4 separate regions of the Homo sapiens genome follow, and regions 1, 2 and 4 are each linked to region 3. Evidence: fine-mapped expression QTL. A gene starts in region 3. Each other region holds a variant in brackets. All regions are shown on one strand. Distances are from middle to middle.

What was found. PIP is the estimated chance that this variant, and not a neighbour inherited with it, causes the effect. A credible set is the group of variants that fine-mapping cannot tell apart.
Region 1: its variant is the best candidate, but not a certain one, in a credible set for the expression of PRICKLE2 in testis (GTEx, PIP 0.71).
Region 2: its variant is the best candidate, but not a certain one, in a credible set for the expression of PRICKLE2 in stomach (GTEx, PIP 0.54).
Region 4: its variant is the best candidate, but not a certain one, in a credible set for the expression of PRICKLE2 in sun-exposed skin (GTEx, PIP 0.78).

Annotation. Positions count from the first base shown.
Region 1 is chr3:64,165,267-64,173,180 of GRCh38, forward strand. All of the region lies in intron 2 of PRICKLE2 (prickle planar cell polarity protein 2), which reads right to left. Among named protein-coding and RNA genes, the nearest start is that of PRICKLE2-AS3, 18 kb to the right of the region's middle. The variant G/A (reference allele first, on the strand shown) is at 3,535.
Region 2 is chr3:64,369,196-64,377,109 of GRCh38, forward strand. No RefSeq gene overlaps it. Among named protein-coding and RNA genes, the nearest start is that of PRICKLE2-DT, 72 kb to the right of the region's middle. The variant A/G (reference allele first, on the strand shown) is at 3,355.
Region 3 is chr3:64,221,543-64,229,456 of GRCh38, forward strand. PRICKLE2 (prickle planar cell polarity protein 2) reads right to left here and starts at 3,924. Exons shown (of 8, transcript NM_198859.4): 1 at 3,368-3,924. RefSeq lists a silencer at 3,811-4,105.
Region 4 is chr3:64,095,809-64,102,966 of GRCh38, forward strand. PRICKLE2 (prickle planar cell polarity protein 2) reads right to left here. Exons shown (of 8, transcript NM_198859.4): 8 at 1-4,117. The coding sequence ends at 3,243. It overlaps PRICKLE2-AS1 (PRICKLE2 antisense RNA 1), which reads left to right. Exons shown (of 3, transcript NR_045697.1): 3 at 1,115-7,158. Among named protein-coding and RNA genes, the nearest start is that of PRICKLE2-AS2, 4.1 kb to the right of the region's middle. The variant G/A (reference allele first, on the strand shown) is at 1,933.

The sequences.
Region 1 (7,914 bases), 56 kb before region 3:
GGCTGGCCCAAGTTGGAATCTTCCCTGCACCCTCTAGGGCATGGCCAGTAGATCTGGACCCCGAGTCAAGGCTCTGTTGTTTCCCATCTCTGGGTTCCTGAGCAAGTTATGTGGCTGTTCAAAATACTCATCATAAGACTGTGATGATTAAATGAGAGTGTAGGCACAAGCATGTGGCTCTTAATAAAAATAAATAACACGAATACATGACAATAGTTATACTATCAAGCCTGGCCTACTCTAAATGGAACAATCCAGATGCTTCCTGGACTAGGTCTTGCTCTGTCACCCAGGCTGGAGTACAGTGGCGCGGTCATGGCTCACTGTAGCCTTGACCTCCTGGGCTTAAGCACTCTTCCCACCTCAGAGTAGCAGGAACTACCAGCGCATGCCACCATGCCTGGCTAATTTTTAAAATATTTTGGAGAGACAGGGTCTTGCTATGTTGACCAAGTTGGTCTTGAACTCCTGGGCTCAAGCTATTCTCCTGCCTTGGCCTTCCAAAGTGCTGGGATTACGGGTGTGAGCCACCCCATCAGGCCCACTTTTGAATGGGCAGCAACACTGCTGGCTTGTAGAGTGAGACCAAACCCTGAAGCCACTTATATTAGTCAAAGCAAGAAAAATACGTTGCAAGGAATACAATGGTATTAAAGCTAGTTTGACTTCAGGGGAAAAATGGCAAACTGTTATAAAGGTGTGTGTGTGTGTGTGTGTGTGTGTGTGTGTGTGTGTGTGTGTGTGTGTGTTTTGTTTTGTTTTTGTTTTTAGAAACTTAGCCATGTATATAAAAGGGTCTCATGAGGAAATAGAATATGCCACTGGAAGGTGATTGTACCAAGTTTCTGTTCTCTCTGAGCCCAGTGTCCTCTTACCTCTGCTCTCTTCTCTTCCTGCAGATCTGCTTCTCACCTTCTCAAAGGTTAAGGTTTCCCACAGCACTTGAGTTTGCACAGCATCACTTCAAGAGTCTGTCCTAGAGTGACTCGCTTTTCTCAATTCCAAATTCCCCAGAGAAGGACCCTGATTACCCTGTCTTGGGCAGCGTCCACACCCAGAAATGAGATTAGAGACATTCAGTACTTTGAAAACTGGAGAATAAATGAATCCCAACATGACATGACTGAGTGAAGGTGCAGCCAGCAGTGATGGAGGACTCTGGAGAAACTTAGGAGTAAATAAGTCCCTTGGTGTGCTGAGATCCATCCTAAAGACTGAATTCTGAAGTCAACAGAGGCAGTGACTACTCTTTGGGAACACAGCTCTATCTTTCCTGGACATCTTTTGTCAACTTTTATAATTCAAGCCTACTGATAACCACTCAAAATTATTCCAGTAATTCCTCAAATATACAATATGCTAGAATATCTTCTCACAAGGTAACTAATAATTTGATGGATGACTTAAGAACTTACCTAGGTAGCAAGATGCCCCATTTCTAAAATAAATAAGTTAATATTAATTAACAACCTACCAAATCACTCCCATATCACATGGTAGGTGATGTGGCTTGCTCTGAGGAAGGAGAATGATTTAGTCCTTTCAGGACTTCCAATCCTCTTCGAAGTCCATTGAAGTCCAGGAGAAAAACGCATCCCTCTAATGTTAGCTTTGTGTCGCCTCCTGGTGTTTAGATGCTGGACTTTCCAAATTTTTCACTGAGCAAAGGGGATTAACGGATGGATGGGAGGGAGGGAGAAACAGCTCTCCTGAATTCTTTGGCTGGATACAGGAATGCTGCCTGCATTTTCCTCTGGCATTCTCCACAGTGAAACTACTGTATGGCCCAAAACAAACATCAAGTGAACCAAGGGTAATGGGAAAATACTGAGTATACTTTCTGGCACTACAAAAATTAAATTTGGCACAATCCCTGAAAATCCTGCAGATTGTTCATTTTAGTCCAAACATGTTTCACTTGTTCATTTTTTTTGGAGTAAATAAGCAAATCCAATAGAATTTTGTCAATGATGATCATTACCAAGCTATTACCCATTATGCTGATAACTGTATTTTTCATTCTGTGTGTATTGAACATATTTATTCAAAAGCACGTCTGTTGAATGTGCTAAAGACTTTGCTCCATTTAGACATTCCCAGATAAAGGTGCCCTGTGATTCCACCCCAGGTGAAATCATACTAGGTAACTTTCCCCTAAACAAAAGCATTTTGAACACAATAAACTGGCTTATGAAAATGAAATAGCCAAAGGCCTTTAAGGTGTAACTCTGCAACAGGAAAGGTTTGGCAGCAACTTCAGTGTGTGTCAGACAGATCGCAAGCACTTTAGTCAGTGCGCATATAAAGTCTACAAAGCAAAGCCTCGCCCAGCTGGAAAGATGAGGCTTGTTGGAAGGAACTGCACGTTTGATAGCATTTCTGCCTGGGCAGAAAGATGGAGGCTGGAGAAGCAATAACTCTGCATTTGGGAGAAAAGTGTATGAAAAGTAAGCTGATTTTTTTTTTATAAAGAAGTGTGCAAAGCACTTTATTTAGAGCACTGGTTCTCAAACTATAGCTTGCATCAGAATCACCTGGAAGGCCTGTTAAAACACAGATTTCTAATTTAGTAGGCCCGGGATGGGGACATTTGCATTTCTGACTCCTCTTCAGGTCCTGCTGTTAGTCCAGGGAACACACTTTGTGAGTTTTAGAGCTTTCTACTGTTTTCCCTCAACAACCAACATTATGCAGTTGCCAGGCAAATGGTAGGATTCCCACTTTCTTCAAGAGATCTAGGAAGCCCAGAAAAGGGAAGAGAACTTGTTGGACCTCACCCAATTTTTCAGGTGTCTCCTTCCACACCTAGATATATGATTCAGCAGGGGATTCTACCAGCTCTGGCAAGAACAAGAAATCCTAAGGGCAAAGTGCTCACATTTTTGGGTGGCAACATTTTCCTTATCAAAAGCATCCTTATTTTCTTAGAGCAGGAACCCACAAAGGAGAAGTTAGACTTTCTTGGCCGATTTCAGAATCAATTGTTCTTCACCATCTAGATGCGGAGGGGGCCCAATATTTTGGCTTCCCTGGGCCACACTGGAAGAAGAAGAATTGTCTTGAGCCACACATAAAATACAGTAACACTAATGATAGCTGATGAGCTTTAAAAAATTGCAAAAAAAAAATCTCATAATGTTTTAAGAAAGTTTGTGCATTTCTGTTGGGCCGCATTCAAAGCCATCCTGGGCTGCATGCAGCCTGTGGACCACGGGTTGGACAAGCCTGATCTGAATGAAGGAAGCGGTCATCGAACTATTGACTTACTGAGTGACCCTACGGCTTGACGCGTTTTTATACACAGTATTTCATAAACCTTCTGCACACTCTGGAGGTGGGTATTTCATACTCATCAGATTGAATATCACATAGTTACAAAGTGAGAGAGCCACCTTTGAGCTTGACTTCCCCATCCTCTCCTTCTGTTCTCCTTTATCAAGAAAAAAAGAGACTGAAGAGACTGGCAGATGGATGGGAAAGAAGGAAGAAAAAACCAAATCATACCCAGATACAGTAGATTCCCAATAGGTCTGC[G/A]TGGCTGACCACAGAAACGATGAACACATTTTCCTTTGGTATTACCCAGAACATAACCAACACACAGCTCCCAAATAAAGCCAAAATGAACAGACAGTAAGTGAAAAATCTCCAAATTACAGTCTTTCCACAACACCATGGCATGATGGTAAGAGAGTTGTGGCAGAGTTTTCCCAGCCATATCCATTTTTTTTTTCTTCCTTAACAATACCCTCATTTGACTGAGAGCATCAATATACTCAGCTAAGAATAATATTTCTGCAGCTCCTTAGTAGCTACATGTGGCCTTACACATTCTGGCCAATGACACGGAAGGGTGTGACTTCTGGGAAGCTCTTTTAAAGGAGGCTAGACAGTTGTTAGCCAAGACCTTTTTTTGCCCATTCCCCCTTCTTCCTGCTTCCTGTCTGGAATGTAAACACAATGGCTAGAGCTCCAGCAGCCATCTTGTGTCATGAAGTAACCTTACAAATGGGAATGGAAGCTGTAACCTGAGGATAGTAGGACGGAAAGTTATGAGCCTGGACTTCAAAAAATTTTTAAAATTTTTATACCATGGAGCCACCAGACTAACCCTGGATTGCGTTTCTCTGAACTTCTGAGTGAGAGAAATAAGCTATTTCTTTATTTACAGTCTCTGTTGCTAGGAAGTGAATGCAATTCCTAAATGATACAGCAGTGGTTTTCAAACAGTAGCATACTTTAGAATCATCTGAGGCCTTTATTAAAGATGATGGCCATTTTCATCCCTCTGGGTCTGAAAAGGAGGCCAGAACTATGCACTCTTAACACCTCAGACCACTCCAGGAGAAACACTAGTTTAAGGAAAAGGCAAACACAAACACAAGGTAAAGGCCAACCCTCCTGAAGTGTAATCTCAGACATGAGCTGATACATTTGGAAGGTTTTATAAAATCCAACTTAACCCAGGGACTAATTCGAACACTGATCCTTTATTTCACGTGCCCCCTCACCTGCAGTTTGAGAAGCTTGGAACCTTGTTTAATCTACCTCAATTCGGGGAGGTAATATCTAAAATGCACCTGAGCATCTCAGAAGGCAGGTTGTACAGAGAAGGGAAAGATGCTGCCTGAATTTGCTGCACGTGGTGGTCTTTAAAAAAGTACACAGTGGTTCCCAAATGGGGACCTGGAGGACCATCAGGTAGCATTACAGCTGTGAGTAAATAGGGATGGGCTGCTCATGAGGGCCCCTGTGTTCATTTTGCCCCTATTTGCCAGAATTTCATTACCCAAGCAATAGGAGAAAAGTGCCGTTAAGTGGCATTTAAGAGGTGAAATTGTACCAAGTTTGGCTCCTTCCCTTTTCTCCTGGAGACCCACATTATAATTTTAATTGGTTTACTCAGGAAGCAATTTAGGAAACAACAGTCTAATGCCTAATGCCTAAACAATGTCTCCATCATGTTGAACTCCCCTAGGATTAGGATCAAAATCAGAAATAAAAGCTCATTTGCAGTATTTTCAAAGAAGACTCTTTCAAAGACTCCTTTCTTTTGTTCACACTTGATGTCTAATTCAACAGTGATTCTTGTTGGATGTCGGTTCAAAACATATCCAGAATCCAGTCATTTTCCACCACCCCTGCAGGACCAGTCTAGCTATGACTAAGTGCTCGCCTGAGCTATTGCTGTGGCTACTTCTGGACCCGGCTTTCACCTTTGTGCCTCTGCAGTCGAGTCTCTATTCAGCAGCAATAACAACTCCATTGGAATATAAACCAGGGTGTGTCACTGCTCTGCTCAAAACCCTGGATGGTCTGGGTGCAGTAGCTCATACCTGCAATCCCAGCACTTTGGGAGGCTAAGGGAGGATGATTGCTTGAGCCCAGGAGTTCGAGACTGGCCTGGGAAACAAAGGTAGACCATGCCTCTAGAAACATTAAAAAAAAAAAAAAAAAAAAAACAGCCTGGCTGTGGTGGTGCACACCTGTGGTCTCAGCTACTCTGGAGGCTGAGCTGGGAGGATCACTTGAGTCTGGGAGGTTGAGGCTGCAGTGAGTGGCGAATGCGCCACTGCCCTCCAGCCTGGGTGACAGAGTGAGATTCTATCTCAAAAAAACAAAACAAAACAATACAAAACAAAAAAACTCAAAACCCCCAAAACAACAACCCTGGATTATCTCCCATGCCTCTATAATGCAAAGCCAAAGTCTTCACTATAGCACCATGACCTCCCCACTCCTTACAACCTGGCTGACTCTGTCTCTTACCATATTCCTTTTGTTCAGGTCTTGTGCTCACAATGACCTCCTTGCTGTTCCTTTCACCTCATGGCCTTTACACCAGCCATTCCCTCGGCCTGAAAGGTTATTCCCCCAGATATTTACATGGTGTCATCCTCCTTTCTTCCAGTCTTTGCTCAAGGGCCACCTTGGCTGCCTTCCTTGACTATCCTAATAAATTAGCACCTCTATCCCTTATCTTCCAACCCAGTACTTCTCAAATGGGGGCAATAATACCCCCCAAGAGATATTTGACAATGTCTACAAACATTTTTTGTTATTGCAACTTGGGGAGGGAGCTGCTTTGGCACATATAGTGGGTAGAGGCCAGGGACGCTGCCAAACTTCCTACAATACATGGGTCAGCCCCAACAGCAAAAGATCCCCATCAAAATGCCAACAGTGCTGAAACTGATAAACTCTTCATCTGCTTTTTGTCAAAGAACTTATCAGTTGTTGACAAATGATCTATTTGTTTGTTGACTTTCTCTTCCCTCTAGAATGTGAGTACTTAGGACTGTGTTTGCTGTATACCCCCAGAAGAGGGTCTGGCATGTACAAGATACTCAATAAGTGTTTGTTGAATGGATGCATGCTGTATTCAAATCTTACCTTTCTAGCTGTCTGGGTTATTAGAGGATCTAGACAGACACATACAGCAAGAGAATAAACAAGCGAGATTTCAAGAGGAAACAGAGTAAAACTCATTAAGCTTCTCTTTCATTCCATCAAAGCATTTGCTTTTTTCACCAAAGATTAGTGCTGTGGGGTGGGTGGAGATGCTAAGTAAAGGATGCATGGAATAACTGTCAATATACTGTTTATTTCAGAGGAAGTGACAAAAGCGACACCCATTTGTATTTGAAGCCAGAGAATTTCTTTCAAGTTGAGTTAACTTCGTTTGAACAAACTAAGGAAAATAATTATGTTATGCCCTAAGCCGGTACCATAATTCAGAATCACATGAGTTGCTTTGCTCCTATGCCTGTTAGTTCTCACATGACCACTCTTTCCAACCCTGTTTATTATTTTATTTAGAATATTAAACTTCAATGTTTTGTTAGAAAATACATTCCATTTAGTTTGGAGCATTATCTGACATTTATTTTATCTTGTGTTAAAGAAAAGGTTGCAGAAATGGAAGAACTTGGGGTTTGAACATTTTCTACTTAAGCTACACTTAAATAGACTCCCTCATCCCAATTTTATCAAAACACCCTTTGCAGATTGTCTACGCATTTGCGTATATGCCCTATTAAAAATTCCCCAACAGTTGCTAACTTCATTTGACAACAGTTTCAATACTGCCTTTAGATAAAATACACACATACATAAGTATGAAAAAAGAAGGATGGCAGTTTCTTATAGGGGTAACTTGTTTGGACTCTGCAGTCAGATTGTTTGGGTTCCAATAATGGATGTAACACTTACCATCTGCATGTAGTTGGGCAAGTTATTTGATCTCTTGTAGAAAGTTAATATCTCCATCTGTAAATTGGGGACAATAATATCTACCTTGAAGCATTAATAAGAGGCTCAAATGATATCGTGTAACTAACAAAGAGAGAGGCACAGGCTGAAGGCTCTATATTTCTTGGCTTTGAAGCAGTCTAATGCATAATTCATAAATGTCTATGTTATAAACAGAATTGTGTACCCCCTGTGATTCACATATCAAATCCCTAACCCCTATGTGTGACTATATTTATAGATAGGGCCTTTAAGGAGGTAATTAAGATTAAATGAGGTCATAAGGCTGGGGCCCTATTCAATAAGACTGGTGTCCTTGTAAGAAGAGGAAGAGATAACCAGGAGCATGCACAGAGAAAAGGCCATCTGCAAGCCAGGAAGAAAAGCCTCACCAGAAATCAACCCTGCTGACATCTTGATCTTGAGCTTTTGGACTCCAGAACTGTGAGAAAATAAATTTCTGTTGTTTAAGCCACCCAGTCTGTGCTATTCTGTTATCTGTGATACGCAAGTGTAAGGAACTGTTGAGTGCTTGTGGGGAAAGAACACACACATGAATGGGAAACCACCCCTAGGTGGAAAGAGGTTATATTTGGCAGAGGGTATAAGACAAGTAGACAAATGACTACAATACAAAGTTAAAATAATGCAAAAGCCATAATAGGT
Region 2 (7,914 bases), 150 kb after region 3:
CATTCATTTATTTTGATCACTTAACCTAAAGTGGGTCTTCTCCAATAATTAGTTCTCTTCTAGAAACCATAGTTTAGCTGTACTTTCCCTCCATGGCATTTATTAAAATAAGCAATTAATAATATGTATATTTATTAGTTTACTTCCTTATCTCCATCTCTAATGATATGGGGAAACTAGAAATGGAACACCACAGATCTCATGACAATCATGCCCCCAAAGAACATTCTTCCCTTTAAATGCCTGTCATTTGAGGCACTATAAAATTTTCATTATAACCATTTTAATGGCTCCCTTGAAATATCTACTAACTAGCTGAAAAGATGACAACACGGTCCATCGCCTCATCTGCATTTTGCCCAAGGTGAAATATGCCTTTCTATATTTTAGCATGAAAGCCAGACCCTTTAATAGCCTTTAAGCCTGTTCTAATTGCTTTCATCAATAGTCACTGTCACCCTCCCTGCCTGACTTTTTATGGTGTCAAGTTGTATCAAGGGGAGAGCTAGGGAAGAGGAAACACTGAAAAGTTCAGCACACAGGCGTTTAAAGTATTTAAGCAGCCTTTCTAGCTCAAGACTTATTTTAAAGCTTCATGTCCTATCTCATTACTTATGAAACTTTGTATTTGAAGTCCAAGTTATACATTGAAATTCAGCAGATGTTTAAGGAGTGCCTACTGTGTACTAGGTACTGAGCTGAGTGCTGCCCATATGACCTCACATCAGACAGATGAAGACTTTGACTTCATGGAGCTTCCATTCTAAGAGGGAGATGGACAACAGACATGGAAACAAACAAATGAGCAAGGTAATTTCAGGTGGGGGGCAAGTGTAATAAAGGAAACAGTGAGATGGCAGAGCACTTGAGGTGGGGTAGAGGTATGAGCAGAAGACCTGAAGGTTTAAAAACACCTGCCATGTGAAGGGCCAGGGGAATGGTCAGCTGGGCAAGAGAGTCAGCAAGTGCAAGGGCTCTGAGGCTGGAACAACCTTGATGTTCCAGAAACAGAGAAGAGGCCAATGTAGCAATTACATGCAATTAGACGGACCGATATCCAAGGGCATTCTGCACGTGCCCAAAGGAGTGCTTCTCCAGAGCCTAGCTTAAGTCCTGCAGAAATGGTGACTTGGCTTCACCCATCCACAACCCAGGCAAAAATCAAGCCATCTTAGATCAACAAGGCAGAAAGGCAAAAGCCATTAGTCGCGATTTTCTAGCAGCTCTGCACAAGGTTCTGCTTACCACCCACACACTCTTTTATTAAGCTAAAATAAGCCTCAGATGAAAACTGTTGCCATCGGTGAAGCTTACTTTAACATATGGTTGATCCAACTGAAGAAAAACACTTTACAAATGCATTTTTTAAATCCCGACTTGCTTGTAGAATGGTTTTGTAAAAAATATTTATCATGCGTCTGGTCTACTGATGTGTTCCAAACGCTGGGGTACAAGGACATGTGTACTTGTCCAAGGGTTCCTTGGTAAACTGATAACGAAGGCGCTCTTCCCCCATGGAATTTGGCTTTCAGGGTTTGATTTGATGCAGTTTGCCAAAACATAAAGAGGTAACCTGTGGTTTTGTAAACTTGGTTAAGGGCAATGTGTTTCTGGCTTGAAAGCTGGCCGGCATGTTTCAGCAGGACAATGCAGCTACTCAAATACTCTCCACTGAAGAAAGCTTTTCCTCACTCTCAGAAGGGGGTACTTTTCTAGCAGAACTCTCTGTTTGGAAAGGTGAGCAGCATGGGCAGAGAGAAGACAGGACTGCGAGATCAAATTGGGATGGGATGGAACATGGGGAGGGATCAGAGCTTCCCCTTGGCTGTGATTGAAATTGGCTAGCAGCTAACACTCAGCGAGCACTTGGTTTGTGTCAGGCAGTATGCTAAATGCTCTTCACATGTTAATCACCTATTCCTTATGACAGCTCTATGAAGTAGATCTTGCTATTACCCATACCCATTTGGCTAGATCGGCAAATGGAGACACTGATGTATATAAGGTCACACAGCTCCCGAGAGGCAGATGTTCTTTGGCAATGAGGATGTGTGGGCCTAGTAGGCACTCAAGGCTCCCTCCATTCTAGTCTGAAGATGAAGTCTTTTCCTTGACCAGTCTAGACCAAGATCTATCAACTACCATTTCTCAAATCCTGGCCATTTGCATTCAACCATGAGGCTATCTCTTCTGCTTGTAGCCCACCACCAATCACTGTAGCAATTTCAACCTTGTCTATACACATCACCTTTGTTATTTGTATTTACTATTGTTTAAGCTTATTAAATTTTTATTGTAATACATTTATTTTATTTTTTTTCAAGACGGAGTCTTGCTTTGTCACCCAGGGTGGAGTGCTGTAGCACTATCTCGGCTCACTGCAACCTCCGCCTCCCAGGTTCAACCAATTCTTCTGCCTCAGACTCCAGAGTAGCTGGTATAACAGGCACCTGCCACCACACCCAGCTAATTTTTATATTTTTAGTAGAGGAGGTTTCACCATGTTGGCCAGGCTAGTCTCAAACTCCTGACCTCATGATCTGCTACCTCCATCTCCCAAAGTGCTGGGATTACAGGGGTGAGCCACCGTGCTCAGCATAATACATTTATTTTAAAAGGAAACTTTATATTCCCATAGAAAAAACAATATATATTGTTATAAATGGACACTGACCATTTACAAAAACTACATGAAATGTCCAGAACAGGCAAATCTATAGATAGAAACTAGATTAGCGGTTGCCTAGGGCTGTGGGGGAGAGGGATGGGGGAGATGACGGTTAAAGGTTACACGGTTTCCTCTTGAAGTAACAAAAATACTTGAGAATTGCCGTGAGGGATATATAACTCTGAATATATTAAAGGCATTGAATTATACACTTTAAATGACTGAATTGTGTAGAATGTAAATTATATCTCAAAGAAGCTGTTTAAAAAAAGTTAATGCCCTCAACTTAAAATGGCAAAGTAACAGGAAAGTGACTTGTTATAAAAAAAAATACAATAAAAGTCAAAATTCTCCTTAAACCCTATAATCTCTCTGCTGACAGATCTGAGGACCCACCTTCTCTGTTAAAAAAGGGAATGCAAAAATGAACTCACTTGCACACACACTCAAAGGGATACAGTAAAAAAAAAAAAAAGACAGATAATAACAAGTGTTGAAAAGGATGTGGAGAAACTGTAATCCTCGTTACATTGCTGGTGAGAATATAAAATGGTGCAGCAACTTTGGAAAACAGTTTGGTGCTTCCTCTGTCTTAAGGATAGAATTATCTTATGGTCTAGCAATTCTTCTTTTTTTTTTTTTTTCCAGAGTCTCACTCTGTTGCCCAGGCTCGGGTACAGTGGTGC[A/G]CTCTTGGCTCACAGCAACCTCCACATCCTGGGTCCAAGCCATTCTTGTGTCTCAGCCTCCTGAGTAGCTGGGACTATAGGCACGTGCCACCATGCCGGGCTAATTTTTGTATTTTTGGTAGAGATAGGTTTTCACCATGTTTGCCAGGCTGATCTTGAACTTCTGACCTCAAGTGATCTGCCTGCCTTGGCCTCCCAAAGTGCTGGGATTACAGGTGTGAGCCACTGCGTCTGGCCAGATCCAGCAATTCTACCCCTAGGTCTATTCCTAAGAGAATTGAAAACATGTCCACATAAAAATATGTACACAAATATTCATAACAACATTACTCATAATAGCCAAAATGTGAAAACAATCTAAATGTCCATCAAATGATGAGTGAATAAACAAAATGTGGTATATGTATACAATGGAGTATTATTCAACCATAAATAGGAATGGAGTACTGATACATGCTACAACATAGAAGAATCCTGAAAATATTTTGCTAAAAGTAATCAAACACAAAAAAAACACATATTATATGATTCCACTTGTAAGAAATGATCAGAAAAGGCAAACCTGTAGACAGAAAGTAGATTAGAAGTTGTCTAGGGCAGTGCTTTGAGTTAGGGTGAAATGGAAAGCAGCTGCTACTGTGTATTAGGAGGTTTCTTTCAGCGGTAATAAAATTATTCTAAAATTGTAGTGACAGTTGCACAACTGTGTGAATATACTAAAAAAAATTGAATTATATAATTTAAATTGGTAAACTGTACGACATGAATTACATCTCAACAAAGTGGTTAAAAATACAATGAAAACTTAAAACATGCCATTGCCAAATATATATATATCATCCCAGTAAATTCGCTGTGACTTAATAGTAATTGCCGTGCTGCACACAGTGGCTCACACATGTAATCCCAGCACTGTGGGAGACCAAAGTGGAAGGATCACTTGAGGCCAGGAGTTCTAGACCTCATCTCTACAAGAAATAAAAAATAAAGAATACTAATTACTATAATTTGAATATGCACCCCAAAAATATGCACTGGAAACTTAATCCTCAATGCGATACTGTTGGGGTATAGGGCCTAATGAGAGGTGATTAGGCCATGATAGTGAAGTGAATAATTAATGCCAATATTGTAGGAGTGGGTTCATTATAAAAGGGGGAGTTTGGCCCCCTTTATCTCTTTCTTTCTCTGTCTCTCTCCTTTAGTACTCTCCTGCCATTCCACCCTCCATCATGGAATAACAAAGAAAGAAGGCCTTTGCCAGGCACTGCTTACTTGATCTTGAACTTCTCAGCTCCAGAAATGGGAGCCAATAAATTTCTGCTCATTATATATTACCCAGCTTCTGTTATTCTGTTACTGAAGCAAAAAACATAATAAGACAGAAATGCCTCATCAATTAATTATCTAAAATACCTTGCACACAACAAATGCCAAGGATTATATATTTAATAGTTGGGCAAACATTATGTTAGGCCTGCCAGGGTTGGAGCTCTGAATGAGAAGTTCAAATGAGTTATAAACCCAAGATTCTATACAATCAGCTTCTCAGAAAAATTGAAGTGCTTAGCTTTGTTCTCAGAAGTCTAGGGCATAATTTATCTTTCTAAGCTTCAGTTTCCTCATCTGTAAAAGGAAACTATAACTCTTAGAGTTATTTTTTATCATATAAGCTCCCATTTTGTTAATTCTTTCCACCAAGACTTATGATGGAAGGCCATAATATGAGCCAGACACTGTTCTAAACCAAAATTATACAAAGATGAATAATTCAGAGAGGTCCCGTCCTTACAAAGTTTTATTCTAGAAGGGACACATTTTCTGCTAGATCTAATATATTATTAAACTTTACAATATGATGGCTGAGTGTTAAGTGCTGTGAAGAAATTATTAATGGGGTAAATGAGATAGATAGAAGGTGAGGGATGAGGGAGGGCAGGCTGCTATTTAATAGAGGGTGATCAGGGAAGTCCTCTTTGAGGAAGTCTAATTTGAGGAAAGCCTAAATGAAACAAGGGAACACACCATGCTAAGATGTGAACGGCAGGAGCCACAACTGGAAGATGTGGTGTACTCAAGGATCATATCTGACAACAGCAGAACACACAATGGGGAGAGTGGAAGGCCATGAGGCTGGTAAAATGGGAATTTGGGGACTAAAGACCATGGTCATAAGGTCTTAGATTTTATTGTCAGCTTGAAGGGAAGCCATTCAGAAGGTTCTGAGTAGAAGGGGGATATATAATTTTAGAACATCACACTGCCTGTGGTGTGAATGGATTATAAGAGGCCAGACTGGAAGCAGGGAGGCCAGGGAGAAGGTCACTATCAGAAAGAAAGTAAAAGAGGGAGGTAGTTGGACCTATGGTGATAGCAAAGGACATGTCCACACAGGTAAGATAGAGCTGGGTTTTGAAAGCAGAGCTGATCCAAGCTTGCTGAGAGTCTTACGGAATGTGTGAGAAAAAGGAACAATCCAGGAAGGAACAATCTTGGGTTTCTGCCCAAAGCAGAAGGACTAGACATCAGATATAACTGCTTAGAGCAAGGTCTGGAACTGAGAAAGTACTCAAAAAATATTAACCACCATCCTGCCACTATCACTATTACCAATATCATTATAACTACCATTATTATTATAACTTCCTCCATCCCACCTCCACCCTCATTACAGCTACCACCATCATGACAATCACTATCATCACCACCACCATCAAAAGCAAAAAGACAGCATAGTACTGGAAGTCCTAGCCAGAACAATCAGGGAAGAGAAAGAAATAGAAGACTTCCAAACAGGAAAAGAAGAAGTGAAATTGTCTCTTTCTGCTGATGACATGATCTTATATATAGAAAGTCTAAAGACACCACCAAAAAACTATTAGAACTGATAAAAGAACTCAGTAAAGTTACAGGATACAAAATCAACTTACAAAAATTAGTAACATCTCTATACACTAATAACAGACTATCTGAAAAATAAATTAAGAAAATTCTATTTATAATAGCATCAAACAAAACTTAGGAGTACATTTAACTAAGGAGGTGAAAGGTCTGTATACTGAAAACTATTAAACCTCAATGGAAAAAATTAAAGATGACACAAATAAATAGGAGTATATCGTGTGTTCATAAATTGGAAGAATATTGTTAAGACGTACATACTACCCAAAGCAATCTACAGATTCAATGTAATCTGTGCCAAAAATGTCAATGTCATTCTTCACAGAAATAGAAAAAACAATCCTAAAATTCATATAGAACCACAAAAGATCCTGAATAGTCAAAGGCATCTTGTACCAAAAGAAAAAAGCTGGAGGCATCATATTACCAAATTTCAAAGTATATTACAAAGCTATAGTAATCAAAACAGCATGGTACTCATATAAGAAGGTACATCAACCAATGCGATAGGATGTATAGCTCAGAAATAAACCAGCAAATTTATAGTCAATTAATTTTCAACAAAGATGCCAAGAACAGCAGACAATGGGGAAAGGAATAAGTGTTGATAAAACTGGATATCCACATGCAGAAAAATAAAACTGGATCCTTATCTCACCACTTATAAAAAATTAACTCAAAATAGATCAAAGACTTAAATGTAAGACCTAAAACTGTAAAACTATTAGAAGAAAACATAGGGGAACAGCTCCATGACATTGGTCCGGGCAGTGATTTCTTAGATATGACCCCAAAGGCACAGACAACAAAAGCAAAATAGACAAATGGGATTGCATCAAACTAAAAAGCTTCTGCAAAGTAAAGGAAACGACAGAGTGAAGAAACAACCCACAGAGTAGGAGAAAGTATTTGCCAAATCATACATTGGATAAAGGGCTAATACCCAAAATATACTACAAGGTGCTCAAACTACTCAATAACAAGAAAACAAATAACCCTATCCAAAAATGGTCAAAGGACCTGAATAGACATTTCTCAAAGAAGACATACAAATGACCAACAGATATATGAAAAAATCCTCAATATCATCAGAAAAATGCAGATTAAAATCACAATGATCTATCACCTCACACCTATTAAATTGGCTATTATCAAAAAGATGAAAGCTATCAAGTGTTGATGAGTAAGTATATGAAAAAAGGGAACTCTTATACACTGTTGGTAGTATTGTAAATTAGCCATTTTGGAAACAGTATGCAGTTTCTTCAAAAATACTAAAAATAGAATTCCCATATGATCCAGCAATCCCACTTCTAGGTGTACATCCAAAGGAATTGAAATTGAAATGTCAAAGAGATGTCTGCACTCCCATGTTCACTGTAGCACTATTCACAATAACCAAGATACGGAAGCAATCAAAGCATCCACCAATAGACAAATGGATTTTTAAAATGTAATATATACACATGCACAAGGAAATACTATTTAGTCTTTAAAAAGCAGGAAATTCTGTCATTTGTGACAACACAGATGAACCTAAAGGCTAAGTGAAATAAGCCAGGCACAAAGAGACAAATAATGTATGATCTCACTTATATGTGGAATTCAAAAAAGTCAAACTTCCAGAAGTAGAGAGTGGAATGGTGGTTAATAGAGGCT
Region 3 (7,914 bases):
AGCATCAACAAAGAAAACAGATTTGGCCAATATCTCATCCTCAAGCTTCTTAGTTTGCAAATAGCTCATGGTCACCAGCAGTTCCCTGTTTATAAGCACCACAGTCATGGAGGGAATGAACAGAGAAAGGTTTCAGTGGATCTTTAAGCACAAAAGAAAGTCTTTATCCAATTGCCACCCAGAATTCCTATCTGAGGGACAGAGCCTTTTGACTCTTGTGTGCTTACAGACAGCACAGAAGAAATGACCACAGCCTGGGGGCTACTAAATAAAGAGGTTTCTGCTAATTCGAGGCAGGCAGTGCAGTTGGGTCATTGAGCCCTTCTCAAATTCAGAGTGTTTGGAACTGATGTTTATTAAAAGAAGCACTAGACGGGTACCACGGTTTGTCATCTGCTATGTCATTTTACTTGGATTTCCCAAATACCTTGTTGTTATTGATTTCTAATTTAATTCTATTGGCCTTCAGTTTCTCCGTTAAATAAATATTAAAATTACTGCCCCCTGTTGTTCACAGATCGGGATTAACTGGGAAATATGCTCAACATCCAGTCAGTACCAGGAATTGGGCAAGGGCATTATAGCCGCTATCTTCACAGCAATCCCATGCATTCAGGGGACTTTATTTCCAATATTCATATGAGGAAGCCAAAGTTCAGAGAGGTCAGGCAACTCTCCTGAGATCATACCTCCCATCAGGAAGTAAGGGAGGTGGGCTGTGGTTAAGGTATAAATATTATTCTCCGTGCAAAACACAACTCTACTAAAGATCAGTAGCAACCAGGAACGACCAACTCCCAGTTCCGAGTTTCTTGGGAAAGAATTTTATGGCAGACTCCTCTCACTCTTGTAATTCACTTTTGTCTTTCAGATCCCTGTGTCAGAGTTCTAATTCCCCAAAATTAAAAAGAAAGATCTTGGGAGGAAAGGGAGAAACAGCAGTCCACTTGTGTGACAGAAGTAGGCCCACCGGCATGAAGGAGGCAGACCACGAGCCTGGCAAAATTGTGCCATAGCAGTGACACAAAACAAAAGCAGACAGACTGGGCCATGGTAGGCAGGCAGGCAGGGGAGGGCTATTCCTTTCCCTTAGCAGCCAACCCATAAGCTGAAGGCACCCAGATGGTGGCAAAAATTCAGCCTTGGAACTTCTGAGGAGCCAACCAGCAGGTTAAGCACATATTCAATGGCCTCCCTGGATAGAGAAGAAAATGCTCAATATCTGCACTGAAAAGAATTAAGAAAGAAAAGGACTGTCTCTCACATGCATAGGTGAAGCAGAAGAGAAATCTAGAAATGCATTGATTCCAACTGGGACCCCGCAGCTTTCTACATGTGACTTGTCAGCTGCCAAAACAGGATGCCTTCTTTAAGGCTGCCTAAGCCCCAGTTAGTTCTAAATGATTTTCATTATACCAGCTGGTCACTTTCAGTTCTGTGAAATACAGTAGTTCTGGATAATATACTTTATTCTGTCAACTCAATCAATAGGGTGGAAAGTTTCTTTGAGTGGGAATCATTTGGATATAACAGTACCAGAGATGGCATCTTTTCTGCTAGCAAAACCTTTCTGCAGGCAAATGGATGTGAACATGTTGCCTTTTCAATACTGTTTTTTAGCAACAACACTTATAATGATAATGACAAAATGGTAACAATGACAACAACAACAACAACAATAGCAGCTAATATTTACTGAATATTTACTATGTGGCTGCCACTGTGCTCTGCATAGGTCATCTCATTAAATCCTTACACCTATCACCCTAACTATAGATTCCATTGCTCTCTCCACTTTACTGGCAGGAATGGGTAGCTTTAAGTATCTTCAGCTCTTTCCAGCTCCAGAGTCTGAGCCCTGGATAAATATCATCTCATACTATCTAACCTCTAAGTTCCCTTCTCATTCTTTAAGCTTCCATAAATGCATCTTTCTTCCTCTATTTCTATTTTATTCCCTCACATTTCATGGGTAAATCTTTATAAACACACCATTTCAAACAATGCTATTTTACTCTTTCTGGCTGCCCCGTGAATCTTTATAGACTGAGATGCCCGATGGAGCCAGTATGTTTTAATTTTCACATGAAAAACAGAATTCCCAAGGGGAAGGAGCATTTGATGGAAAGGCAAAACCTTTATAAGCACTCAAGGCATTAAAATCCAAATTTCCAAAATATGGTAATTATGTCAAAGTTGTGACTTACTCTGGAGCCCTTGGGGACCCTCATCCTGACCCATCTGTGAAAGCCATCAGCAGGCAGTAAGCCTTCTGAGGAGCAGGATTACAGCAGCCAATTTGGCCTCTAGCAAAGAGGCAAGGCTGCTTCATTTAGTTTAAGTCTCACTGAGATGGTTTAAAACACTCTTTGGGAAGAGATGTGCAGGCAAAGCAAATCACAGCCTTACCAGCTGCAGATTCAGTACACGGCAGTCTATGTCTACATATTCATGGCACACTGGAGCCCTCCCCTGACTGTGCTCATACATGCATTGATATGGGAAGCAGAACTCTCTCACTGGGGAAATAATCTATGTGCCTAAGTTAGACAAGAGCCACATTTGGACCAGCGGATGGCATCACATCTGGTATGGATCGCTAACCTCAGTGTGATTTGGCCCAGCCTGGATTATTTATGATTCATAAAAGTCCCACTGGACCCCAGCATAGTCCAAGACCACATAACAAAAAACCATGGGATTAAAAATCTGTATTTCATTGCAAGACCCCCATGGCAAATTAGTAATGCTATGATTGGTTTTCGAGAAGCCAAGAGTGAGGAGAACTAACTATGATCACTCCCTCAAGAAACCCAGCATAGAGGGCAAACCGAATCATGTGTTCAGCCAGGCTATGCAGTCATATTCTGAAGCTCTGTCACCATTTCTAATCTGAAAGCAGTGTCTAAAATTAAACCTAAATAATTTGAAAGCCATTTCTTTACCTGGAAGTCTCAGCTGAGTCCTTGTTCCTCAGATCCCCTAATGGTTTCTGACATCATGTGTTGAAATGACTACTGTACATGAACGCTATCAGGTATTTGGTCTGTTAGCCCCTTTCCCCATATTATTATGGTTTTTTAAAGAAAGCTACACTTTTAGAGAAACGCTGCTTCTTCTTAAGCATCAAGATTTAAGCGTTTCTTCAGGACTCCCTAGAGCTGTGACATAACACTTTGTAATCGAGCTTTCTAATCAGCATAGAAAAGGCAAAAGGGGTCGCAGGGCCACCAAAAATGCTACCTGGCCAAGAAAACGAAGACCCAATATCCTCCCCCAGTGCAAAGGCCCTAGATCTGGCTTTCTCATCCTCCTTAGAAAATATACTGCTGTTTAATTTGTGAATTAGAGCAAATTTCTTACCCACCTCCAGGGAGGATGAAATGCCCAGTCTCGGAGGAAGCTTCTGCCAGACCCTTGGAGCTTGTCAATTGTCCCAGTTCACTTTCTCCCTGGATCTGACTTCTAAGAACGCAAGCAGGACCTCAGGCAGCCAAAGCATCTTCTCCTCAAACCCCCTTTTCAGTCTGAACCCTTCCTGAAGCTGGCAACAGACTCAAGCCGAGCTGCTCCACATTCCCTCAGGGAAAACAGCACTGCTGGATCCAGACTCTGCTGGGGAATTCACCAAGCAAGAGAAAAAAAGTATGACTTCTACTCTTCCTCTAGATCAGCCTGAGTGCTCAGATCGCCTTCCGGAGGACCCCCAGTTTCCTCTTAACTCCCCTTCTTCATGACAATCTGAAGGAAGAAGTCATAGACTCCAGCCCAGCGTCACCAGCTGATCCTGAGCCAGACCCGGGGTGACTAGTCAGCTGCTCACAGAGCTCAAGCCACTGAACCAGGAAATGTGCTGCTTGGTCAAAAAATAATAATAACTCTCGGTGGCGCTGCTGGTGGTGCCTGAGAAGTCGCTGTTGCAGTGCTTGCATCCTCCGCATGCTAATGAAGCTGTGATGTCAGCAAGTCAGTCACGGCATCTGGACGTCCCATCCTGCTGCCCAGTGCTGAGATTTATTTACATGTAAATTAGCCTTGCCTTCCAAATCAATAATCCCCAAGCCAGGGAGAGGGGAAGGAAGCCTTTGCTGGATGCAAAGGCCCAGCTACGTAACCTCCAAATGAGCATGAAAAAAATCACATATAAGAAGAGAGGCTTTAAAGACACATGCCTATTTTTTTTCTTCTTAAAAGCTGTGCTCTTAGGTGCCAAGGTTCAGATCTGGGCACAATTATCAACCTGAGCGCCTGTTTCAGATTATATGCTGCACCAACCTAGGAGTGGAATCAGAGCACTCTTTTTTTAATTAAATGCTGTGTCAAGCCTTCAAAAATGCCTCTCCTTTTTTTTTTTCTTTCTCTTCTCTCTTCAACTTTCATTTTCGGGTGTTGCTTGTTTTTTGGCCTGAGACTATGTCACCTTTGAGTTTTTGTGCACCTCGAAATAAAGCACAAGTGACTCCTTTCCTCACGTGCTTGGGTGGTGAGTCAGTCAGCTGCCCTTTAACCCCTTACCCCAATTCCAACTGCATGCAGAAGAAGACAAAGCATAAACCTTCCCAGGGCATCTGAAGACCCTGAGACCCTCAGAGAGCATTGCTTCCATCTCCTCATTTTACAGATTAGAAAATGGAGACAACTGGAGAAAGGACTTTTCTAAAGTCACACCAGGATTTCAGCAAGGATGGGTCAGAATCCACATTTCCTAGACCTCAGATAGAGCTTTTGTTGAATACCTTTGGGGTCTCCGAGCTCCATTTTTATACACCACTAGGCGGCCTAACCAAGCAATCTGGAAGAAAGGAATCTATACATTTGGAGAGCCCTGTGTTCAAATCCTGCCTTTCCTTCCTGCTAGCAGTGTGATCTTAGGCAAGTAACTTAACTTGTGGGATCTTCAATAACCTCATCTGTACCATTCACTCATTCAATAAATATTTACTAAGCACGTACTCTATGCCATGCACAGCTCTAAAGGCTAGGTATAAACACAGTCTCTGCTTTCAAGGGCCTTATGGGCTACTGCAATTAAAGAAAGTAAAATATTGAATAGAACTATGGTGAAGATTAACACAATATCACATACTCAATAGCTATTTCTGATATTTTGAATGAAGTTAGAAAAATTCACCGAGGCATACTATCTACTAGGCTGATCACTGTTCCTAGCATCTGAGTATTTCCATGGTCATCTTTAATTGTTTAAAATCATATATTCCTTCAATGCTGCCTGTGCAGTATCCCGGGCCAGGAGAGAGGCAAGAGCCAGGCAATATTCTGGACTCTGTGCCTGTGATAAGGAAGCACTGTGAGTGAAAGTAAAGGGTGAGGGAAAGGTTGGGGAGGCTGGGAGGGAGGAATATTCCATCATGCACAGAAGTGTCCCAAAGGACAAAGCAGCTAGCACGGCTCCTTGCCCACACTCCCCCGCCTGGGGAACCCACTCTGATGAGCTCTGCCCTTCCAGCTGCAGTTCCTGAAGCTTCAAATGAATTTCTTTGTTGGATGTGGGGAAGTTAAATTATGTCTTTTGTTGTATGTAATTGTATTAATAATGCTTAATAACTTCTTTCAGAATGCTTCTCTCTAGTTCCCAGAAGACCTTTCATGGTGAAAATCATGAGACCTGGAATAACTTCTCAGTAAGAGAAATAAAATACAAGCAAATGAATAACACTCAGCCTTCAGTTTCCATCACACAGAACTCAGAGCGTGTAGGGAGGCAGATGGTCTCCCCAGACCTCAATATCCTTCAAAAAGTCAATTAGCAAGTCTAACAGTTTGGGGCCCCCAGTAGCCAAGTGGAAGCAGTGACATTCTAACCCAGTGTGGCCACGAACAAGTCACTTCAACTTTCCATGCCTCAGTTTCTTAAAAATGGGTACACTACTCTCTCATCTACTCATGATCAGCATGGTCATATAAGAGGCAATTCACAGGTGATCAACAATGAAATAAAGAAGACAGCTGAAACATAGCAAGAGATTACTCTTCACCTGGAACAGATGTGACACATCACTACCAACTTCATAAGAATTAACATCATAACATGGAGTCTAAAATGGATTGCCTGGGGTCAGACTCTGGCTGTGACACTTGCTAGGTCTATGACTTGAGGCCTGAGGTCCTTATATGTAACCTAGGGCATAATGATAGTGCCTACCTGCATGGGGCCATTGGGAGAATCCAATGAGCATTAATGTGAATCATTTAACACTGAGCCTGTTACATAGCAAACACTCAATAAGTGTTAGCTATTGGTAATATTAATAGAAACAATCATGCTTCCACCATTAACTTCAGCGCAAATTAGTTAAGTAACCAGTTAAAATTCAAAAGGTGGGGAGAAAGCGGTAAAGGGAAGACTGCAAAATCATCTTTATTCCTAGAGCATATCTCAAAGTTCTATCTAATGTGGGTGAGCCACTGATATGCCATTTTCCATATGATACAATACAAATGCTTTGAACTGCTATGAATCTAGGAAATAAAGGAGTAAAAATGACCAAGAGGCGGGCTCCCTCTTCTGAAACTATACACCAGGACAAGACAACTATATTTTTGAGATGAATACATGCTTCACCCATTCATTCATATATCCATTCACTCATTAAATAAGCTCCTACTATTTGCCAGTCACTGTGCTAGGGTCTGGGGACAACATGGTGACCAAGATACACATGGATCCTGCCTTAAAAGAGCTTGGCAATCAGAGAGAAGACAATTAAGTAGGCAATTAGAGTAGAATGGGGTGTGTGTTATGGCAGGAGGCATGCAGAGTCCTCAAAGGCCTAATTGCATTCAAGAGAGGGATGGCACAAAAGCATGCTGCCCAAGTCCTTTTGCCAGCACACGCTCTGTGAGCTCAGCTTGGTGATGAGGAAGCTGGATATCTATGCATCACACTTACACAGAATATTAAAATTACAAAATCCACAGATTGTTAATTCCCTGTGGTCATTATTTTCATCCTGGAGACCATTCTAATGAGGTGTTTTTTTTTTTACAAATTATACTGGTAGGTATTAGAAAAAGTGAGAAAAAACTACTTTAAAAATTTCAGAGACTTAGTAAATAGGAACAAAACTCATATTGTTTTTCTAAAAAACAGTGAAATTCCACATTCATGACAGCAAACTTCATGCGAGTAAAGGCAGGGAAGAACAGGTAATACATATGAGAAACTCAACCAAATGTTTATTAGGGATTTGTGAAGCGGAGGACACTCTTGTCAGGAGACAAGGATGCAACTGTCGACCTTCAGAACTTTCTGTTTAGGTAGAATGATAGGATATTTATACAAATGACCATAATTGCATATAGTATATAGGAAAAAGGACAAGGAAGACAAAATTAATTATGGCAGAGGTGATCAGGAACCAGGAAAAGTATGATCTGGGTCAGGCCCAAGGTCAAAAACGCTTTTACTTTTTTGGAATTAAAAAACAATTTTATAGTGGGGGAAGGCCTTACTAAGCATGACACAAAATCCAGAAGTAGAAAAAGGCTGCAAAAATTTGACCTTAGTCAAATTCACCTTCTGCTAGAGGTGTTCCAGGCAGGAATAAGAACATGAGTAGGAAGGAAAATTATGAACACAAATGCATAATTAAGAGACATCTGCATGGACACAAGACAGCAAAACAGCAGCAACATGACACTGGCAGGTAATAACAAAGAGACAGCTCCATGCATGCTGGAAAATCAAATCATCTTTCCATTCTAGCCAGCTTTAGGCAGCATCTTGTTAGAGGATTACAGGGAAAGGTCAAGTACATCTCTACTGGTCAGGTTACAGAAGGGAAGGGTAAGTGACAGGAAGGGTGGTAGCCTCCTAGATGAAGAGCTGTAATGAGGAAGGCTGCAATGAACAAGTTTTAAATCTCTGTTTCTACAGGTATAAAATAAGAAGGA
Region 4 (7,158 bases), 130 kb before region 3:
AAACAACCCACACCAGGACTTCTTCCTTGGATGTATGAAAAACCAGGAAGCATGGTTCTGATCTCCCTTACCTCATTCACCTTCACACTTGGTAGAGATCCCACAACTATATGACAGAAGGAAAGCGCCCTGAATACCATCCTCAATGCCACCTGGCTGCCAAGAAGCCTTTTCACAGTACCAAGGGTGGTATGGATTGGCAGAGCCACTCAGGAAACTGTCAATGACTTATACTTCCTGGGTCTGGGAACAAGCCAGCTATGTTGCTACTGAATTGAGCAGCAATAGGAAATGAACTCAACTCCGAAGTTGCAGTTCTAACCAAAAGACAAGAAGATCAATATTAGGAGAGGTGGGAAAAATAACAACCAGGGCATTGGAGAAGAGAGAACGCTGGAAAAAGATTACTATTCTGGAAATCAGTCTCTTGAAGATGGAATTATGATCTAAGAGGAAGTGAGTACAGGCCCTACTCACAGGAGGAGCTTGTCCAATAAGAGTTAATGGTTGTGATGGAGGAATTAGGTGAGGACCTTAAGTTCTTGCCTCAGGAAATAATGCATTGGGAGTGGGATTCTGGGATGTGATGTGTGAGCTATCACTAGCAGGCAGAATTCCAAATACAGTGATGTCCTTCTCCTCAATAGGGCATTCGCTTGGGGGTTCTGCCATCATTGTAAGGAATTGGCCTTCCTCATTCAGCATTCTCTGTAAGGTTGCATTTGGGGTCAGAAGAAATCTGCAATGGTAGAATTGAGGGAGGTAATCTTGCTAGTAGACAGTTTTACCCTGAAGCTTGTATGTCATTTCATCTCAAGCTCTGAGCAGTTCAGTGCCTGGATGCTCTCTGGGCATCTAGACTTATGCCTCCAGACCCCTCCGGGCACTGGCCATGTGTCAGTTTTTAGGCCACCTTCTTTCTGATGATGGTGGTTGAAGCTTTCTTTGAGAAAGGTAAGAGGTATTCTGAGAAAAACAGAGTTAGGAAGCAACTTTTACTGGGAGAATTTCTTTCACTGGATTTGGGGCCACAGAGGACAGACATATTTTCAACCGTTTGCTAAGATAAGTGATCTACTTTTCCCCCTCTCTTTTTCCAAAATTGCCTTTTTAGTTTCATCAATCAAGGAACTTAAAACTCCAAATTGGACTCGCACAATTTCTACCAGAAACCTGCCACTTTAGTAGCACGGTATTGCAAATTATTTCTTAATCAGTTTGCCAAGCAGTTTACAAACTTACTATACAAACGTAATAGAGTTAATTCTCCGGAGGCTCGGATAATTAATGAAGCATTTAGATATGAAGATAGCATGCGGAAAACAGCCACAACCAACATGTGCATTGCTTTTTTAAAAAAATCAGTGACAATGACAAATGTCATATTAATACCTGAAAAGCAAATTATTTTAATACATCCCGAATGGAGTGCCATTACCATGTCCTTTACAGCCTTCCTTTCCTCAGACCCATCTGGGACGGGGTCTGAAATGCCACTTTTGACATTCTCTCCATAAAAAATACTAGAAAATGTTAACTACTATACTGAAAAGAGATCACGCTCACCTCACCATGGCAGATGGCCACTGAGATACACCGGGCACTACATCGACAGTACATCTCACTACAGGTGGGTCATCCGATGGATTATTTCAACTGCCACAATCCATTAAGGGGAGGAGGAGGATGGAAGAAACCAAGTGCTTCATTTTTAACTGAAGCAAGGTAGGGAGTTTTATTTTACTATAAACAGCACAACCGTTAAATGTCTTCATTAAGCAAACTCACTTTTGAGCCCATTTTCTGACCAACAGTCCTCAAAGTTCAAAATGGAAATACCCTCCCAACAAAGCCTGTTTTTTTAAAGACATTGCACCACTGAAATCTCAGCAGCTCAACCTTCCTGGGTAATCCAGATACTCTGGTTACTAA[G/A]CTGGTTACACTGGACTCTTTCTACAATCTCTGGGAGCTCTTCGAGGTGGTTGTCACCTGTCCTCTGTTTCATTTCCAGTTCTTCTTTTCCCTGACCTGCCTTCAGATTCTCCTTTAACTTCTACCCTTGACCTGCCTTCTGTTTTCAAATAGCCTTGTTCCTTCTCCAGGCATGACATGTCACACACCGTCCCTCGCAGAGCCCCCTCAGAATCCTTCTGTCCCTCAATCCCAAATGCTTAAGTTCATTTGCTTTGAGGACAACCGGTTGTCAGGCTAAGGCAGCAGTTCTGTCTGCCTTGGTAAAGGAAAGCAGATAATACAATCCAGGAAACATGAGCACCAGAACATAATGCCACATTCAAAACAACGTCATGCTGACATCACACAATGGCACCACTCACAGTCACTTTTACTTTCCCCAAGGGATAGATCAACATTAAGTAACTTCAACATTCCCAGCAGGGATGGCATTTCTCACAGAATTTTACTGACACCGGTTGGTTTCTCTAATTGGCAAAAATTACATTTGCAATTTAAAAAAAAATTACTACCACTTTGTAGAAAATAAATTCTACTGAGGGTGGGAGCAGACTTAAGGATGGCTCCTTAAGATGGAACGGAGCATAAAATGCTTTGGGTCTAACAGTTATGTTTTTTCAGCCACAAAAAGCCAAATTGAATATGTTCCTTTGAAAAAGGTCTCACTGACATGTAACAAATTTGTATAGAAAAAAAAAAAAAAAAAAAAAAGGTGGTACCGGGCCACATTTCAATACTACTCAGAGACAATGGTGGATGTGCATGCAAGTCCCCACTGAGTCCTACGATATAGAAATTCCTTTGATATTACAAAATACAAAAATATTTTATCAGAACTCTCATTTACATTGCATTTACAATGGACATGTAAATAACTTAGTCTTGGGTCCTGGCTAATAAACAAATTACTTACTGAAAAAAGGGTCCTAAAAGTAAGAGAACCAGAGAGGATAAAAGCGAGCAGGAAACAATTTACCATCTTGAGAGATGGCAACTCAACACAGAACTGATGGGAAGGAAGTGACCAAGCCTGGCCTCGATAGAGTCTACTGTGTTTCCAAAGTGAAATGTGCAAATAATATTCAACATGCCAAGAACTGTGACTACCTATTGAGTCAACCTGTAACCTTGCCTCCATCTACTGACAGCATTTTCCCTTTTCTCCCCCATAAGCCACCCCCAAAAGCGCTTTAACATTTAAAACAGTGCAAGTTTCTGACTTTACATTCTTAGCTCCCATCTTCTCCCATTCCCTGATCCCAATCATATTAAGAAATGATACAGTTTTTGCTCTTCTGTCTTTTCCTGCTGTGCAACTGTCCTCTGCCACCTAATGTGGAAGATTTGGGGAGGCCGTAGGAGCTGTATTTGTGCAGCAGCTCATCGCTTGTGACGTATCGCAGGCGCGCTGGCTGGGGGATGGGTTCTCCTAGGAAATAGCCCTCGTTGTCAGACTCTGAAGAGGAGGAGCAGGTGGAACACCAATCATACTCGGCGAAGTAGGGTCCCCAGCGGTCCCCAAAGGCATTCTGCAAAGCCAGGTCCGACACAGTCCTAGGGCACTGGCCGTACAGGTCCCTCCGGGACCCATGCCCCATGCTCTCCTGGAAGCTCCGCTGGCGCATAAATTGGTCATAGTCCTCCCTGGCTCTCAGAGGGGGCCTATCTTTTAACCGGGAGATGGCCTCGCGTTCGCTGGCCAGGTGGAGGGCGTTGTCGGAGCGAGAGCGTCGGGAACGCCTGGACCTGTGAGGTCGGAAACGGCGGTTGTCGTCGCGTGAAGTAGCTCTTCTCCGGGTGCGTTCACTCATGGGCTGGATCCTCACGCCCTCCTGCCCTGGCAGCTTGCTGCCCGCCATCCCTCCATCAAAATCAAAGCTCTGATGCATCCTTCCGTGGGACTGCAGGTCTCTGTAGCCAATGGGGTTGCTGAGCTGGTGGAGGTTTCCCTCCATCTCCTGGTACTGCTGGGCAGAGAGCAGGCTGCGAACTGACTCTGCGCTCCGGAACTGCATGGACGAGTTAAGAGTGCCCATGTTGCTCAGCTTCTCAGACACATTCATTCCAGAGTCTTTGCTGAGGTCAGGCATGGAAAATCGGGATAGGTGCTCCTGGCGCTTGGCACCACCATCAGCAGAGAGGCCTGGGGAAGAGAGGAGGGGACCACAGAGATTAATACAGATGTGCAGCAATGGGTATCACTGTCACTGCTGGTCATCTATCTAGGGTCATTATATACCGTTGTGAAGTTGTGTACTGCACAAAGGCCCTCTCAGGGGGCACATGTGCCTGTGAGGGGGTTCTCTCCACTCCACAGTAGGTCACTATCTACCTAGAGGGGGCACTTACTTAAAATGCTTCCAGAGATGTATTTTACCAGTTACTAGTTCCTCCAAAGGCTCATCAAAGTTACTAAGAGCCCACTGTGTATCCTATGTATGATGCTTCCTCTATTTGGAGTTTCACTTTGCAAAGTACTTTAATTACATTTTTGATTCTAATCATGCACTATAAGCTCTGTAGGACAGATATTTTGGATGAGCAAACTTTAAGCTCTAGAGGCTGGATCATGCCCAAGCTGTTTCTGGCAATACCAAACACTGGTTCCACAATATTGGGCCAGTTCACTTCTCTGTTAGCCCGCAGCAGTTTCCTGCTTTGCCTGCTGTCCCTAAGTGGCAGGTGGCTCCCTATCAAAAGTGTCTTGGACACTAAGTGACTCCCTAGATATAGATAGAGAAATATTTACTCTCTCAGACCATTCAGTGAATGCTCCAAGGTTGTAAATGGGTCTCTAGCAGCCAGAAGATGTGTGTGGGACCCCAAGGGACCTCTCGGTCGCACGGGGAGGGACTTTCAAAAGTAAAGCAGTGGGTTTGATGCTCTCAAACAGTGGGTGCCCCAGCAATGGACCTCCATTTCTTAACTGCTGTCAAATGAGCTCTTGGCATCCCTGAGATGAAAACCATTTTGAAGGTAGTGGGAGATACTGACTGCAGTAACTTCCATTTTGCTCATTTTCAGGCAGAGCTCTCTAAGGAGATGTTTAAGAATGGGCCAGGTGGCAAAGTCTCAGCATTTTCCACTCATTACATATTGCAAGGATCAGCAATTTGCCATTCCTGGTCATAGACAACATGCCTTTGGATTGCAATGGCCCATTATCACCCCTGCTACTGATTATTCCTGTCTCCTACTGGGGCCTCCAACTTCCTCTTCCGTGACAAAACCTAAAGCAGTGTTACGAGCACTTTGCAAAATTACTTGGCAATATTTACTAAAGCTAAATACACATATACGTATATGAATTATAAATAAAGCCGCTCTGAATATCCTTGGCCATTTTTTGTGGACTTATGAATTTCTGTTGGGTGTACGACCAAGAGTAGAAATTCCACAATTCTCCATCTTCACTCTTGATTATATATTCATCAGAAGTTAGTAAGAAGGTCCAAGAAATGGACAAGGGTACTCAGAGAAGCTTTCTTGTAATAGCCCAGAAACGGAAACAACTCAAATGTCAATTATCAGGAAAATGGATAAATATATTGTGGTTTTTTCTACCATTCCCCACTAAAAGGAATCCAGGCTCTTTAGAAAGATGGCCAATTCCAGGATAAAGGCAAGGAAATTAAAAGAACCAGGATCTTGTTATGCCATAAAGTGAGAAAGTATTAAAAATAAGATATGGCAGGGGTTTGTCAGAAGGACACAGGGCCTAACTTGAAGGGGCCCCCACTGGCCAAATCTGAACAATTTGAGCACTCAAATATTTAAGTGAAGTAATGATTTATAAACCACTGAAACAAATAGGAATTCACAAGTCCATGCTGATAGCAGATAAATAAAAACATAAATAAATACACAAACAGGGAAAAGAGAGGGCTCTATGTATAGTGGAATGCCAACCGCTGTCAGTAGAGTAAGTTCACAAGAAGGAAGGGGGTGCCAGATTTGGAAAGTCATTTTATAACCATTGGAGGTAGAGTGCTTCACACAAGAATCAAAAAGTGTGCTAAATTTAGGGGGTAAAATTTGATGGGGGAGAGCATTGTTTTAAAGTGTTTCCCTACACATTGCTTATTAGTTGCAAGGGAAGAATTAGTAACTAAACAAAGGTAAAATCAGACAACACCTTGACCTTAAGTTCAAACTTAACATCCCTGGTGAGATGCAACTGCACCCTGCATGCCTCCAGTTGAGATGTACTCAGAAGGGCACACTATCCCTTATGTAGTATTCCAGTCAAGAATGTATTACCCGAATGCATTCAGGAGGAAACATTAGACAGATGCCAAAAGGAGGGACATTTGTTATGAAAAAAGGGACTGTAGTCTTAAGACCAGACAAGACTGAGAGAATGTTCTAGATGAAAGGGTACGAGGGAAACATGGCAATTACATATAATACCTGATCCTGGACTGGAACCTGCTCTTTAGGGAAACTAAATGCTATAAAGTAGGGGTTCCCAGACCTCAGGCTACAGACTGGTTAGGAGCAGGGCCACACAGAAGGAGGTGAGTGGTCAGTAAGGGAAGCTTCATCTGCATGTACAGCCACTCCCCATTGCTCCAACTACTGCCTGACCTCTGCCTCCTGACAGATCAGCAGCAGCATTAGACTCTCATAGGAGTGTAAACCCTGTTGTGAACTGCTCATGCAGGATCTAGGTTGTGTGCTCCTTACGAGAATCTCATGCCTGATGATCCATAACTGTCTCCCATTACCCCTAGATGGGACTGTCTAGTTGCAGGAAAACAAGCTCAGGTCTCCCACTGACTCTACCTTAAAGTGAGTTGTGTAATTATTTCAGTATATATTACAATGTAGTAATAATAGAAATAAAGTACATAATAAATGTAATGCACTTGAACCATCCCAAAGCCATCCCCACCCCCTGGCCCCAGTCTGTGGAAAAATTATCTTCCATAAAACCGGTCCCTGGTGCCAAAAAGGTTGGGGACTGCCTCTATAAAGGATAACTTTTGGTCAACTGAAAAAAAAATGGAACATGGGCAATAGATAAAAGTATTATGCTAAATTTACTGTGGTCAATTAATAATGGTGATAATGTGGGAGAAGATCTTTACTCTTGGGAAATATATATGGAAGGATATGGTGGTAAATGGCCCAGATGGATGCAATTTGCTCTCAAATGGTTTATAAATAAAATGTGTGTGTGTG